Regions from separate parts of the Homo sapiens genome. Here region 1 is linked to region 2. Evidence: fine-mapped expression QTL. A gene starts in region 2. The other region holds a variant in brackets. All regions are shown on one strand. Distances are between the middles of the regions. Region 1 has its middle 8.9 kb from the start of PRPSAP1. Region 2 holds the start of QRICH2 (glutamine rich 2).

Evidence for each region. PIP is the estimated chance that this variant, and not a neighbour inherited with it, causes the effect.
Region 1: its variant is fine-mapped to the expression of QRICH2 in esophagus mucosa (GTEx, PIP above 0.99).

Annotation. Positions count from the first base shown.
Region 1 is chr17:76,358,628-76,366,917 of GRCh38, forward strand. No RefSeq gene overlaps it. Among named protein-coding and RNA genes, the nearest start is that of PRPSAP1, 8.9 kb to the left of the region's middle. The variant A/G (reference allele first, on the strand shown) is at 4,931.
Region 2 is chr17:76,303,371-76,311,698 of GRCh38, forward strand. QRICH2 (glutamine rich 2) reads right to left here and starts at 4,906. Exons shown (of 19, transcript NM_001388453.1): 1 at 4,095-4,906; 2 at 1,512-1,571; 3 at 1,045-1,155. The coding sequence starts at 4,628. It overlaps PRPSAP1 (phosphoribosyl pyrophosphate synthetase associated protein 1), which reads right to left. Exons shown (of 10, transcript NM_002766.3): 10 at 6,108-8,328. The coding sequence ends at 8,172.

The DNA of each region.
Region 1 (8,290 bases), 55 kb after region 2:
AGACCAGCCTGGCCAACATAGTGAAACCCTGTCTCTACTAAAAATACAAAAAAGTAGCTGGGCGTGGTGGTGGGCGCCTGTAATCCCAGCTACTCGGGAGGCTGAGGCAGGAGAATGGCTTGAACCCAGAGGTGGAGGTTGCAGCGAGCCAAGATCACGCCATTGCACTCCAGCCTGCGCGACAGAGCGAGACTCCATCTCAAAATCAATCAAGCAATCAATCAATTAATCAAACAAGGCTGGGCATGGTGGCTCATGCCTGTAATCTCAGCATTTTGGGCGGCCGAGGCTAGTGGATTACCTGAGGTCAGGAGTTTGAGACCAGCCTGGCCAACATGGCAAAACCCATCTCTACTAAAAATAACAAAAATTAGCCAGGTGTGGTAGCAGGCACCTGTAATCTCAGTTACTCAGGAGGCTGAGGTAGGAGAATCGCTTTAACCTGGGAGGTGGAGGTTGCAGTGAGCCGAGATTGCGCCACTGCACTCTAGCTTGGGCCACAGAGCGAGACCCTGTCTCTAAATAAATAAATAATAAATTAAAATTAAAAAAAAAACGTTTGCTTTGTCTGGCACAATGGCTCACGCCTACAATCCCAGCACTTCGGGAGGCCAAGGCAGGTGGATCACCTGAGATCAGGAGTTCAAGGCCAGCCTGGCCAACATGGCGAAACCACATCTCTACTAAAAATACAAAAATTAACCAGATGTGGTGAGGAGCACCTCGGATCCCAGCTACTCGGGAGGCTGAGGCATGAGAATCACTTAAACCCGGGAGGTGGAGGTTGCAGTGAGCCAAGACCACACCATTGCACTCCAGCCTGGGTGACAGAGCAAGACTGTCTCAAACGAAAAAAAAAAGGTTTGCTTTTAAAAGAATCATTGATGATGGGGAAATGCTCATAAACAAAGTGGCAAAATAACCTGACTTAGACATTATCTGAGTCATATTTTCCTGCATGTCTTAAGAGAAAGAAGGCGCACAGGGACGTGTTTGAGGACCTGAGACTCCCTTAAGAGGCTTTTATTATTTTTATTTATTTATTTTTTAAGAGACAGGGTCTCACTATGTTACCCAGGCTGGACTCAAACTCCTGGGTTCAAATGACGCTCCCGAGCAGCTGGAATTGAGGCTTTTATTATTGAAAGCCTAAATTCCCAAAGGCAAGAACTGAAGTGTCCCTGAGTGCCCCAGCCTTGGAGAGGGGGAGTCCTCACAAATTGAAGGGACAGTTGGACGAGGAGGTGGGGACTCCAACAAGTACCCTGGGGACTCTCATAAAGATGAGGAAAGAATGAAGACCGGAGGCTCTCCTTGAAGCTCAGGAACTGCGGAAGGCCCTGGGGCTCTTTTATGTACCAGTCCTGGCAGAGGACTTGGAGTCAGATTTAATCTTGTTAAACAGAATTTGTGGCCCAGCATGGTGGCTCACGCCTGTAATTCCAGCACTTTGGGAGGCCGAGGTGGGAGGATCACCTGAGGTCAGGAGTTCGAGACCAGCCTGACCAACATGGTGAAAGCCTGTCTCTACTAAAAATACAAAAATTAGCTGGGTGTTGTGGCATCCGCCTATATTCGCAGCTGCTAGTGAGGCTAGGGCAGGAGAATCGCTTGAATCCGGGAGGCTGAGGTTGCAGTGAGCCGAGATCGCCCCATTGCACTCCAGCCTGGGCAACAGAGTGAGACTCTGTCTCAAAACAAAAAAGAGAGAGAGACTCTCTGAAATAAAGCAACGTTTATTTGGGATCGGGCATGACAATGGGAATATGTGTGCCATAGTAAACTATGTGTGTATCCAACTAGGTAAAGGAGGACGAACGTTTTTAGAGGAAGATTGAGGGGGATTACACAATTGTTTTGGGATAATTTTCCTTGGCTACAAGGATCAACAACAAGTGTGACCCAGTGCCAGGTTGTACAGGCAGTTGCTGGGCAGATGCCCTCGCAGAAGTATTTTTTGTGTAAGGTTTCAGTGGCCTTTGTGCAAGGTTGTGATTTTTGCTGAGTCTTCCGTGATAGTTTTTGTTATCTGGCATTTATGCATAAGAACCTTCTCTTTATAGCCTTTCCCAGCTCTATTTGTCAGAGCTTTTTGTTTTGTTTTAACACAAGTGACTCAATTTTGCTTCTGACAACTTCCACAGAGTCTTCATTTTTACTGATGGGTCAGGGATTTTTTTCTTTCTTTCTTTCTTTTTTTTTTGAGACTGAGTCTTGCTCTGTCACCCAGGCTGGAGTGCAGTGGCACAATCTCGGCTCACTGCAAGTTCCGCCTCCCGGGTTCACGCCATTCTCCTGCCTCAGCCTCCTGAGTAGCTGGGACGACAGGCGCCCGCCACCACGCCTGGCTAATTTTTTGTATTTTTAGTAGAGACGGGGTTTCACCGTGTTAGCCAGGATGGTCTCGATCTCCTGACCTTGTGATCCGCCCTCCTCGGCCTCCCAAAGTGCTGGGATTACAGGCATGAGCCACCGCGCCCGGCTGATTTTTTCTTTTTTTGAAATGAAGTTTTGCTCTTGTCACCCAGGCTGGAGTGCAACGGCACAATCTCGGCTCACCACAACCTCCGCCTCCTGGGTTCAAGCAATTATCCTGCCTCAGCCTCCCAAGTAGCTGGGATTACAGGCATGCGCCACCACGCCTGGGTAATTTTTGTATTTTTAGTAGAGATGGGGTTTCAACCATATTGGCCAGGGTGGTCTTGAACTCCTGACCTTGTGATCCGCCCGCCTCGGCCTCCCAAAGTGCTGGGATTACAGGCGTGAGCCACCGCGCCCGGCCTTAACATGTCTTTTTTGACGTTTGAAGTGAGACTTCACTTGACCAGTTTTGTTTTTTTTACCGTTTCTCTTTATAAGACCAGACTGACTCTTGAGGTTCCAGACCAGCTGGATACCTCCTGCCAGAACGAAGACAGCTGTGCCTCCACAAAATGACATTTTGCATCTACAACCCTATTTCAGTTTTCAAGTTTTAAAAAATGAGCTGCTTGTTAACCGGGCCAGTTTCGGCATGAATTATAGAAAGATCTCCTCTGTACTAGAAACTAGAAGACAAAGGGTGGCATAAGTAGAGATTTGGCATGAAATATTGTCCAGGAACAAACAGGACAAGACAAAGAGGGGTGTGTTTAGGATTGCTCAGCCCTGTCCCCAAGGGAGGAACTAATTGGAAGACAAGGTCAGTCTTTGCAAGGATAAAGAACATTTCAGGCAATAATTCAGAAGTTTTGCATCCACGTTGCGCCACTCCAACTTGAACTTTGGAAAAATATGAGGCCTTTCCCTGTTTTCATTCTCCAAACAAGCCTCAGCAAGCTGGGACTGAGTGATCTTTATTTCTAAAAATAATACCAACTTGGATCTCTAAGCTGATTCTCTCTATAGGGTACCAGAAACCATGCTGGGGGCAGGAGCAAAATACAGGCAGACAGAGCCAAGCCTGCTAGGAGTGACCCTTCCCAGCTTCAGCAAGGACAGTGGTAGGCAGCAGCTGCTGGGCTGGTCTCTGGAAAATCTGAAATGGAATCACAAGGCACTGAGTCCTCGACCTCACCTATGCCTCGGTTTCAGTAGCTCTTGGTGGGAGTCTTTGGAGGCATTTGAGGGGGTCTGAAATGCCCGAACATCATTGAAGACTTTGGTTCAAGTGGAAACCCTCAAGGGGCTTCTAGTGCCTTCTCTCTGTGCACCGCAGAAGCTCCTGCCAAATGACATGCTTCCTTGCCCCTATGGCCGGATTCATAGCTGCACTGGCAAGATGGGGTGGAAGAGACAGAAACGGAGCAAGGAAAAAGGCCAGGGCTGTAGGGGCTGAGAAGGCAGGAGGCAAACACTAAGGAGACATTATAACAACTCAGGAGGCAAATGATTCAGGAAGTCACAAGGTTCTTGGCTCAACTGTGCCAAATTTGTCAGTTCAAGAGGGTCCAGGTCTATGAGAGCTAAAAACCCCCAAACAATGCAAATGTCCAAAGGCAGCTATGGGCCGGCCATGGAGGCTCACATTTATAATCCCAGCCTCCCTTGGGAGGCCAAGGCGGGAGGATCACCTGAGGTCAGGAGTTTGAGACCAGCCTGGCCAACATGGTGAAACCCATCTCTACTAAAAATACAAAAAACTAGCTGGGCATGGTGGCAGATGCCTGCAATTCCAGCTACTCAGGAGGCTGAGGCAGGAGAATTGCTTGAAGCTGGGAGGCAGAGGTTGCAGCGAGCTGAGATGGCGCCACTGTACTCCAGCCTGGGCAACAAGAGCAAAACCCTGTCTCAAAAAATAAAATAGTAAAAAAAATAAGGCTGGGCGTGGTGGCTCACGCCTGTAATCCCAGCACTTTGGGAGGCCAAGGCGGGCGGATGGCTTGAGCCTAGAATTCAAGACCAGCCTGGGCAACATGGTGAAACCCTATCTCTACAAAAAACACAAAAGTTAGCTGGGCATGGTGGTTCATGTCTGTATTCCCAGCTAATTGGGAAGCTGAGGTGGGAGGATCCCTTGAGCCCAGGAGGTTGAGGATGCAGTGAGCTGTGAGACCCTGTCTCTTAAAAAAAAAAAAAAAAAAAAGGCAATCAAAGTGAGACAGGAGAATAGGATCTGGAAGCAGGGACTCTAAGGACTTCCTAGAACTGAATCAAATGGAAACACTTCAACTATGACAGGAAATATCCTCTCCATTTACATAGGGCGTACACCGAGTGAATGACTTTGTAACTTTACTTCATCCCTTCATTTACATAGGGCGTACACCAAGTAACCAATGGAAACTTCTAGAGGGTATTTAAACCCCCAAAAATTAGCCCCTATGCTCAGGCTGCTCTCACCCTGTGGAGTGTACTTTTGTTTTGTTTTTTCTTTTTTTTTTGAGACAGAGTCTTGCCCTGTCACCCAAGTTGGAATGCAGTGACACGATCTCAGGTTCAAGAAATTCTC[A/G]TGTCTCAGCCTCCTGAGTAGCTGGGATTATAGGCATCGCCACCACGCCCAGATAATTTTTGTTTTGTTTTGTTTCTGAGACAGAGTCTTCCTCTGTTGCCCAGGGTGGAGTGCAGCTGCACGATCTCAGCTCACTGCAAACCCCGCCTCTTGGGTTCAAGCGATTCTTCTGCCTCAGCCTCCTGAGTAGCTGGAATTACAGGCACGCACCACCACGCCCAGCTAATTTTTGTATTTTTAGTAAAGATGGGGGTTTCACCATATTGGCCAGGCTGGTTTTGAACTCCTGATCTCGTGATCCGCCTGCCTTGGCCTCCCAAAGTGCTGGGATTACAGGCATGAGCTACCGCGCCTGGCCTAATTTTTGTATTTTTAGTAGAGTCGGGGTTTCACCATGTTGGCCAGGCTGGTCTCGAACTCCTGGCCCCAAGTAATCCGCCTGCCTTGGCCTCCCAAAATGCTGCAGGGATTACAGGCGTGAGCCACCGCGCCCGGCCTGTACTTTTGTTTTCAATAAGTCTCTGCTTTTGTTGCTTCATTCTTTCCTTTGTTTGTTTGTGAATTTTGTACAATTATTTAAGACACCAAAAACCTGGACACCCTCCACCAGTAACAAAAGGATTTTCCCCAAAGTATATTTCTTTTTTTAAATTTTGAGATGGAGTTTCGCTCTTGTCTAGACTGGAGTGCAATGGTGCCATCTTGGCTCACTGCAACCTTGGCCTCCTGCCTCAGCCTCCCGAGTAGTGGGATTACAGGTGCCTGCCACCATGCCCAGCTAATTTTTGTATTTTTAGTAGATGGGGTTTCACCATGGTGGCCAGGCTGGTCTTGAACTCTTGACCTCAGGTGATCCACCAGCCACCTTGGCCTCCCAAAGTGTTGGGATTACAGGCATGAGCCACCGCGCCTGGTCTCCCAAAATACATTTTTTTGACATATTTTGAAATGGCCCTCCAAAGCTTTCTTTTATGGGGGAAATCTGCATTCTGTAGAGAATCCCCTTCCCTTCTCAGGTCTCTCTGGAGAGACTGGCACCTGTGACATTCACATCTCTTCTCTCAGAAGCCTGCTACCTGAAGGCGTCATCTACAAGACAAGAACTTTGGCTTCCACAACCACCCACCACTTACCATAACTCAAGCTGATTTCAGCTCTTCAGGCAGAGCTTACCATTTTCAACAAATTGCCAATCAGCAAATGTTGAAATCTACCTATGACCTGGAAACCACCCCCACTTCAAGATGTCCCACCTTTCTGGGCTGAGCCAATGTATACCTTACCTCTGTCCATTTATGTCTTTTCCTGTAACTTCTGTCTTCCTAAAATGTATAAATCAAGCCTTAGGCCGGGCACAGTGGCTCATGCCTGTAATCCCAGCACTTTGGCTGGCCGAGGCGGGCGGATCACTCGAGGTCAGAAGTTTGAGACCAGCCTGGGCAACATGGCGAAACTCCATCTCTACTAAAAATACAAAAAATTAGCTGGGTGTGGTGGCGCGAGCCTGTAATTCCAGCTACTTGGGAGGCTGAGGCAGGAGAATTGCTTGAACCCAGGATGTGGAGGTTGCAGAGATCGCACCACTTTACTCCAGCCGGGGAAACAGAGAGAGACTCTGTCTCAAAAAAAAAAAAAAAAAAAGGCTGGGTACAGTGGCTCATGCCTGACCCTGCCTGGAGGTTGCTGTGAGAGCTAAATGAGATGGAGAGTGGATGACAAGGAGGAGTGAGGTGCCCTGTGTGATCCTCCACGTTTTCCTGGAATTAGGAGAGCCCACCGCTGAGAATAAAATGCACCCCCAATTCTTGGTTCAGGGAACCACCCACTGAGGGGGCTGGCTGGGAGATGCCTCTCGACACTGACGCTGTCAACCCTGTGTGGAATTGAGAATTCCACTGGCTTTTGTTCCTGGTTCCTGGGAGGTAACCTGTAAATCCTCAGAATTTCCTGAGTGATAGTAGTGTCTGTGTTACTCACGATCGGGCCTCGGAGGACACCCGATCATTTATGCAAATGACTCTAGGTCCAGGAAGACCAACCGTGAGATTAGAAGGCTGTGGCTCTGGAGCCTGGGTGATGGAAGGTGATTGAGGCTACAGTGAGCTATGATCCTTCCACTGCACTCCAGCCTGGGCGACAGAGGGAGCCCTTGTCTCAAAACAAACAAACAAACAAAAAAATTTAAAAATTAGCTGGGTGTGTTGGTGCATGCTTACGGTCCCATAAGAGGGACCATAAGGGAGGATCATTTGAGCCCAGGAGTTTGAGGCTGCAGTGAGCCGTGATCACACCACTGCACTCCAGCCTGAACAACACAGCAAGAACCTGTCTCAAAAAAAAAAAAAAAAAAAAAAGCAGAAAGAAAAAGAAAACAAAATTAGAAGGTTGGGTCTTTGAGCCACTTGTTATCAGCCTGACTTCCGGGGACGGAGGGGCTGGAGCTTGAGTTTAGTGTGTGGTGTATGATTCCTCCATCATGCCTGCATATAAAACCCCAAGGACAACTCTACACAGAGGCTCGGGTGAGCTTCCCTGGTTAGTGATGCTCTGTCTATTGTCACAGATGGAGGTACCAGGAGGGTTAAGGTGTCCCTGAGGATAACAGCGCTTTGCACCGGGGACCCACCCAGCCCGGACGCAGTGCTTCTGGCTGTGGCTGGTTCTGATTCGTGTTCTTTTGCTGTAATAAAACTGTAAATGAAACTTCAGCATTTACCTGAGTGCTGTGAGTCATTCTAGTGAATTAGGAATCTGAGGGGGTGGTGGGAACCCCTGAATTTGAGGCCATCTGGTCAAAAGTGAGGACCCTGAACTTGCAGCTGGTGTCTGAAGTGAGGGCTGTCCTGTGGAGGAAGGCATCACCTGAGGCCCAACCCCAGGTAGTTGGTGTCAAATGTCATTGCACCTGCCCTGAAAGAAAGAGGGAGAGAAGTGAGGGAAGGGGCCACCTTTTGGGGAGAGCTGGTGTCTGTGAGAAAAGGCCTCAATCTTTTTTTTTTTTGAGATGGAGTTTCGCTCTTTCGCCCAGGCTGGAAAGAAGTGGCGTGATCTCAGCTCACTGCAACCTCCAACCCCCAGGTTCAAGTGATTCTCCTGCTCATCCTCCCGGGTAGCTGGGATTATAGGCGCCTGCCACCACACCTGGCTAATATTTGTATTTTTAGTAGAGACGGGGTTTCACCATGTTGGTCAGGCTGGTCTCGAACTTCTGACCTCAGGTGATCCACCCACCTTGACCTCCCAAAGTGCTGGGATTACAGACGTGAGCCACCCCGCCCAGCCCCTCATTTTTCTCTTTCTCTCTCTCACCTGACCTCAGGTGATCTGCCTGCCTCGGCTTCCCAAAGTACTAGGATTACA
Region 2 (8,328 bases):
GTTGGCTTGCTTGTTTTGATAACCCACTAGCCCAAAGCCAGCGGGAGGGATGTCAAGACCAAAAGGGAAGTTAAGCCTCATCTTTGAGGGCCATTTGAATATATCCAGCTTGATTTTAATCAGATGAAAGTAGGTCGGGGATCGGAAAACAATTTGGTCATCTGTACACTGTCTCAAGACAGACAGATGCATGCCTGTGTGCAAAAGTCGCCACCAGCGGCCGGGCGCGGTGGCTCACGCCTGTAATCCCAGCACTTTGGGAGGCCGAGGCGGGCGGATCACGAGGTGAGGAGATCGAGACTTTCCTGGGCAACACCGTGAAACCCCGTCTCTACTAAAAATACAAAAAGAAATTAGCCAGGCGTGGTGGTGGGCGCCTGTAGTCCCAGCTACTCTGGAGGCTGAGACAGGAGAATGGCGTGAACCCGGGAGGCGGAGCTTGCAGTGAGCCGAGATCGCGCCACTGCACTCCAGCCTGGGTAATAGAGCAAAACTCTGTCTCAAAAAAAAAAAAAAAAAAAAAGTCGCCACCAGCAAAGGGCCCCCTACAGAGGTTTTACTTCCAGGGTCTGTCACCATGGTCCACTAATAAGGAAAGATCCCTGCATTTCAGGACAGACTGTAAAGAAAGTTTGAGAAGGTATAAAAGCAAATAAAAACTACACTCAGGTACGATTTTTCTATTGATCCAGTGGGTTGGCAAAGCTAAAAAAATTGGGTACCAACCATACAGCGCTGGGGGGATGTCAGGGAACAAGCTCTCTCTCCCATTGATGGTGGGGGTCTACACTGGAACAGCAGCCATGGAAGGCAATTTATCAATGGCTAGCCAAATCACTAACACACATCCCTTTCTAGGGATGCATGTTATTCACACGTGAATGACACCTTGTTCTTAAGATTGGAAAAAGCATTTAAAACACCCATATCAATGAAACTTGCGAACTATGAATATCCATAGAACAGAATCCTGTGCAGCTGTACAAAGCGAGAAGTTCTGGGGAGCCCCACCCAAGACCACGGCCCAGGCCCCCACTGGTTCACCGCTTGTGAGGCTCTCCAGCCGTCCGTAATCGCCTGCTCCAGCTCTTCCCAGGTGACCATGGTGACTTCTTCTGCACCAGGAACCAAACTCAGCTTCCGGCTGACTAGTTCCTGACAGTGACAGAAAAGACACACACATACACCCCTTGATTAATCCCAAGCAGCTTTAGGAACAGACTTGGTCTAACAGGATCTGGGTGGGTCCTTCACAGCCCCAGCCCCAGGGAGAATTCATCACCCTTCAAGTGACCAGTGAAGGTTGGGCAGCCAGTTATCTGTCCCATGTGAGCACCCAGCAGAGCGCTGGGCAGGGCTGGGGCAGATTTCCCTCCAACCCTGGGGCAGAGACTTGAGAGGCAGAGGGCACACACTGCCTGCCCTGGATGGACAAGCCCTGGAGAGAGGGCCACACTGAGAGACGGCCAGCCCCCTGGAGAGCCCTTTCCCATGGAACTGGCTGGTATTACCAGGAATTGCTCCCGATCTTTGAATAGCTTCTCTAGTTCATCAACCCGCTGTAAAAGTACCTGGAAGAAGAGTTCAGGAAAGGAGAATGACAGTGGCCCCTACACACGCACACTCACATGCACACACACACAGATGCGCACACACACTCTCACACTCAGACACACACATGCATACACGCACATTCACACACTGACTCAGTGCCAGGAGACGAGGAAAGGGGGAATTTGTGTGGCTCTTATGGAAAGGGAGGGTTTCTTCTTCTACTTGGGTTTTTTTGGTTTCCTTTTTTTTTTTTTTTTGAGACAGGGTCTTGCTCTGTCACCCAAGCTGCAGTGCAGTGATGCCACCACAGCTCACTGCAGCCTCAACCTCTCAGGCTCAAGCGATCCTCCCACCTCAGCCTCCTGAGTAGCTGGGACTTCAGGCATGCACCACCACATCCAGCTAATTTTAAACATTTTTTTGTAGAGATAAGATCTTGCAATGTTGCCCAGGCTGGTCTTGAACTCCTGGGTCCGAGCAATCCTCCAGCCTCGGCCTCCCACAGTGCTGAGATTACAGGCAGGAGCCCCTGCTTTCTACCTGGTTTTTACCTGGCCAGTCAGCCCAGGCTCCTGGGTCTTTTCCCAGCCAAGTGCAGGAAGGGAAGTGAGATGCAGTGGGGGACCTGGCTGGTAGCATGGCAGGAGTAAGTGCTGCTGCAGGGATGGGACCCTTTGGTCCTGGGATTCAGTTTGCTCCAACCCACTTGTGAAAGCCTGTAGGATGAGGCCCACCTTGCCTTACAAGGAAGGAAGGGTGCCAGGTACCTCAACAGTAGCTGAACATCTGTGCTATCTAAAGAGAAAAGCACCTCAAAAGAACCAAAGCAAATCGCTACAACATAAGGTGCTATCATATTTGGGATTAAGAAAAAATATATTAATAAACAAAAATAAAACAAGTTACTTTTTATAACTTTTGCAAACTTCTAGAATCTAAGATTACGTAAAAATTAAAACAAAAGGCCAGGCGCAGTGGCTCTTGCCTGTAATCCCAACACTTTGGGAAGCCGAGGCAGGAGGATCACTTTAGGTCAGGAGTTCGAGACCAGCCTGGCCAACACGGCAAAACCCCATCTCTACTAAAAGTACAAAAGTTAGCTGGGCATGGTGGTGTGCACCTATAATCCTAGCTACTCGGGAAGCCGAGGCAGGAGAATTCCTTGAACCCAGGAGATGGAGTTGCAGTGAGCCGACAATGCACCACTGCACTCCAGCCTGGGTGACAGAGTGAGAATGTGTCTCAAAAAAAAAAAAAAAAAAAAAAAAACCCAAAAAAATTAAAACAAAAAAAACCCCCACCACACTTTAAAGTTTGAAAAGGAAAGCAGACATGCTTCCCAGAGCAAAAGTGAGTTGGTGCTGCGGTCTCGAGACCTGGGGTGATATGGCAGGAGGGCATGAGCGGCCAGGGCTCCCCTGCTGGGGCTTGGCCTCTTCTTCCTGCCTCTTCCCGGCCTCTTTTTCCCCTCCTGTCTCTCCTCTTGGCCTCCCCACCCAGCTGCCTTCCTAGTTGCTTCTGCTTTTTCTTTCAGAACCAACCTAAGGTGGCTCTGAGACATGCACGTGTCTATTACCTCCTGGCGCTGACCTGCGTTGCTTCCTGCTGTTCACTGGACAATACTTATACTCAATGATTACATGCATTTGTCCCTCCAAGAAAACAAAAGTCCAGTTGAAGGCAGGGCTCAGTGGCTCACGCCTGTAATGCCCAGCACTTTGGGAGGCCGAGGCGGGCAGATCACTTGAGGTCAGGAGTTTGAGACCAGCCCCGCCAACATGGTGAAACTCCTTCTCTACTAAAAACACAAATATTAGCCAGGCGGGGTGGCGCGCGCCTATAATCCCAGCTACTCGGGAGGCTGAGGCAGGAGAATCGCTTGAGTCTGGGAGGCGGAAGTTGCAGTGAGCCGAGACTGCACCACTGCATTTCAGCCTGGGTGATAGAGTGAGACTCCTTCTCAAAAAAAAAAAAAGTCCAAGTGAAACGGTCCCCTGCCTGCTGTGGCTTGTGTCATGGCCATAGGAAGCTGAGGTCCAACTCTCCATCCTGACTCCCCTTCTCTGGGAGCCTTTGTCCTCAACACGTATCTCTTCATGTCCTTATTCATTTTAAAAAGGGAATTCACTCTAAGAATCTTCTGAGAAGTTGCCGGCCCCACTCTGAGCCAGCTCTGGGTCCTTGGATGTCTGATAAGTGGTGGGCGAACCTCTCCCGTAAACAGGGGCTAGGAAGGAGGGGGTGGGATGGGGCCACTACACTTAGGAGGTGGGGTCCCCAGGCCCCTCCAGCTCGGGGAGGCCCTAGGCCTTTTGGTGGCGTTCTTTTAGGATTTTCACGTCTTGCAGCCCCGTGGACTGCAAGGTAGAGCATGGGCCACTCTATTTAGCCAGTCGCACTGAGGTCTGGCACCTCCTCGGTCCCCATCCCCTCCGTCCCCACCACCGCTCACCCCTCCAGGGTGGTGGGGACTCGGCTAGGCCTGGAGGGCGGCCTGGAGGAGGCAGACGGCCTGCGCGTGCCTCCGTGTGCGTGCTCACCCTGGCAAAGCTGAGCTCCTCGGCGGCGTCCTTCATGATACTCCCAGTCCGCACCCTATCGAACGCCCGCACGCCCACCTCCTGCTCCTCCGGCCACTCTAGCGCGGCCAGGTCAAGCCCGCTGGCCTGGGAGAAGTGCTGCACGTGCGTGGCGATGCCCTGCACCTGGCCGTCCACACGCTTGAGCTGCTTGCTCAGGTCCTCCACCTGGCCGCCCAGGTCCTTCACTTGGCTCTCCAGCGCTGACGAAGGCGCCTGGCCCACGCCCCTGCGCTTCTCCCGGGGCGCCCCCTTGGGCACCTCCTTGGGCGCGGGCAGGTGCGGGATGCTGAACGAGCTCCGGACGGACTGCAGCGAGCGGCTGGGCTCGGGCGACGAGGGCTGGAAGTCGATCCGGGTATTTTGGAGGTCGAGGTTCTTGAGCATGGCCACGATGAGCGTGTGCAGGGCCGTGAAGTTGACGGCGCCCACCTCTGGCGTGCCGATGGAGAGGTCCGCCAGCTCCCGGAGGGAGACCGTGGTCGCGGGCGGCATCGTGGCTGTCAGGAGCTGTGCGCCGCCGCGGGGCGCCGGCCAACCACTTCCCGCTCACTGCACGCCGCGCCTTGGGGCCTTTCGGGGGCCCTGCGAGGTCCTCGGGGCGCCCCTGCCCCGGGTCCGGCCGAGTCACTGGACAGAGCTCCTGCCTCCAGGGAATCTGCGCCTCCGCTCCCCGGCGGGGTCCGCGATGGCCACCCCTCCGCTGTCTGTCGCTGGCCTCGGGTCCCCGAGCTGGAGCCCTGGACTCCCAGTCCCCGCGCCGGCGGACGTTTGAAACGTGGGGGCCCCCGCGTGCCCTGAAGATTCCACGTAACAACACGCCTCCCTGCGAGCCACGGGGGCGGGGGGAAGTAAAGGCCACCACAAGGATCACAAGGGGAGCCTTGGCAACGGGCTGAGGAGGCCTCCTAAGATCCAGCTAGACTCCATCCATCCCCTTAACCTAGAAAGGCCAGGATTCACTCACTCTTGGCGGGGCCACATAAGGAAAGACTTGAGGGTTTCCTGGCAACCATGCTTTGTGTCATCAGCTGCGTCCATTCCAGAGTGGTGGCCCCATGTCTATGGCCCCATGTCTAAGGGATGCAGTCCTGGGGCCCTGGTCCCCTCAGACAGTCCACATATTTTGTTCAATCAAAGGTGAAGCAACTTGGAAAAGACAACCCACTCACTATTCAGGCAGTTCCAATTAGCCACTAGATGACTAACTGGTGGCTAATTGTCCCTTTTCTGTGCTGCCATAATTTTTTTTTTACTTTTGAGAGGGAGTCTTGCTCTGTCGCCCAGGCTGTAGTGCAATGGCACGATCTCGGCTCACTGCAACCTCTGCCTCCCGGGTTGACATGATTCTCCTGCCTCAGCCTCCCGAGTAGCTGGGATTACAGATGCGTGGTACCATGCCCGGCTAATTTTTTGTATTTTTAGCAGAGACGGGGTTTCACTATGTTGGCCAGGCTGGTCTTGAACTCCCGACCTCAAGTGATCGACCCACCTCGGCCTCCCAAAGTGCTGGGATTACAGGTGTAAGCCACCGCGCCCAGCCTGCCATAAATTAATTGATCTCAAAAAAACGGCCAGGCTTGGTGGCTCACACCTGTAATCCCAGCACTTTGGGAGGCCGAGGCGGGTGGATCACCTGAGGTAAGGGGTTCAAGGCCAGCCTAGCCAACATAGTGAAACCCCTCTGCTAAAAATACAAAAAATTAGCCGGGCATGGTACCGCGCATCTGTAATCCCAGCTACTCGGGAGGCTGAGGCAGGAGAATCGCGTCAACCCGGGAGGCAGAGGTTGCAGTGAGCCAAGATCGCACCACTGCACCCCAGCCTGGGCGACAGTGCAAGACTCTGTCTCAAAAAAAAAAAAAAAGAAAAGAAAAGAAACCACTCACCTGGTCAAGCGCCTGTGCTTGAGCTCATTACAAAGCAGGATTAAACAGCACGAGACAAATCTGGTGTTAACAATTGAGACATGACTTCCCCATACAAGATTCTTCCCAAAAACGTATAAATAAAACTTCCTAACAGAAGCACAGCAAGGCTACTTAAAGAGAACCTATGAATGTGTGCCATGCATGGCCAGCCTCCTCCGTGAGCTCTGCATCTGCAGATTTAACCAACCACGACTGAACACGTACAGATTCCTGTCATGATTCTCTAAATAATACAGCATGACCACCATCTACACAGGATATTGCAGTAGGTATTACAAGTCATCCAGGATGTGCATAGCTTATATGCAGATACTACACCATTTTCTATCAGGGACTTGCACATCCATGGGCAGGAGGTTGAGTCCTGGAACCAATCACCCATGGATTGTAAGGAATAACTGTACTATTTTAACTACTGTTCAAGTTCAGATTTTTCACTTCAGCCTGAGAGGTACTGTTTATTTAATTGAAGGATTTTCGATCATCATTATATTCCAATAACTTGGGACACAGTAGGCCTTTAAGGGGTTATCAAAATAACTAGTTCTTTGCAGTCTTTTTTTTTTTTTGAGATGGAATCTTGCTCTGTCACTTGGGCTGGAGTGCAGTGGCACAATCTCAGCTCACTGCAATCTCTGCCTCTTGGGTTCAACCAATTAATTCTCCTGCCTCAGCCTCCCGAGTAGCTGGGATTACAGGCGTGCACCCCCTCCCCCAACACCCGGCTAATTTTTGTATTTTTAGTAGGGACAGGGTTTCACCATATTGGCCAGGCTGGTCTCAAACTCCTGACCTCAAGTGATCTGCCCACCTCGGCCTCCCAAAGTGCTGGGATTACAGGCGTGAGCCATGATGCCTGGCCTCTTTGTAGTCTTTTTATGCTTTTAACTTAGCTAGGCTAATTTTTGTATTTTTAGTAGAGACGGGGTTTTGCCATGTTGGCCAGGCTGGTCTCAAACTCCTGACCTCAGGTGATCTACCTGCCTCGGCCTCCCAAAGTGCAGGGATTACAGGCATAAGACACGATCCCTGGCCTGTTTTTTTTTTTTGAGACAGGGTGTTGCTCTGTCACCCAGGATGGATGGCAGTGGTACAATCATAGTTCACTGCAGCTTCAACCTCCTTGGCTCAGGCAATCCTCCCACCTCAGCCTCCCAAGGTAGCTGGAACTACAGGCACATGCTACCAATGCCTGGCTAATTTTTGTATTTTTTGTAGACATGGGGGTTTCGCCATGTTTCCCAGGCTGGTCTGAAACTCCTGGGCTCAAGCAATCCTCCTTGCCTCAGCCTCCCAAAGTACTCAGATTATAGGTGTGAGCCACCACACCTAGACTTTTTTTTTTTTTTTTTAAAGATTTAAAATACAGTATTCAACAAGGATTTAGCTTCAACACTTAGGAAGAGGGTGGAACCTGGGAAAGTGTTTGTGTCCAGCCACAGACCTGACTGCTGTTCTGTATCCATGGTCTTCTGCTGTCTAATGAAAAGACTAGCAAGACAACAAATTATTTTATTTGCAACTTCAGAGCCACTCAGATACCCAGAGGTGGGATGCTATTTTCTAATCTGACATCCTTGGAAGATGTAACAACATGAATGCTTCATTTTTCAATGGCTGTAGGCATAACAATTTCTGAAAGAAAAATACGATTCTCTATAAAAGACTTGAAGTTGATTTGGGAGAGGCCAACTGGATAGTAATAGGGCCACAGGCGCTCAGCTTCCCTAACCAGGTTCAACATCAATACCTCCATTTCCCTGGAGCTGAAACAACTAAATGAACATTATAGAGTTAAGACTTTATGTGCCTTTAACTCCTCTTTAGTATCAATAAGATTTTCAGATTATTTTTAAGAAAGCAGCTAGAACTTTTAAGGAACAGGGCTGATGACAGCAGACATGTAAGGCCATGTTATGATATTTATCCATTAGCTCTGTCTTCTTCCTGACTCTTTTAATCCCTCCTCCCCATCAATCCGGGCAAAAGAAGATATCTAACTCCAGGCTGTTTCGAGTCCTCCCTTGCAAGGAAACACTGTATCACTCATGGCACTGCTTTTTCCATGTTTCCCTCAGGAGGTCCAGGGTCGAGACCCTCGTGAAAGCTAGTCATCCACAGTGATGTTTCGGAAAAGGTAGGCCATGGACTCTCCATTGTGGATTCTCCGAATGGCTTCAGAAAGAATCAAACTGATATCCACAGTCTTTATCTTGGGACATTGCAGCTTCTGAACCTCATGAGGGACAGTATTCGTCACCACC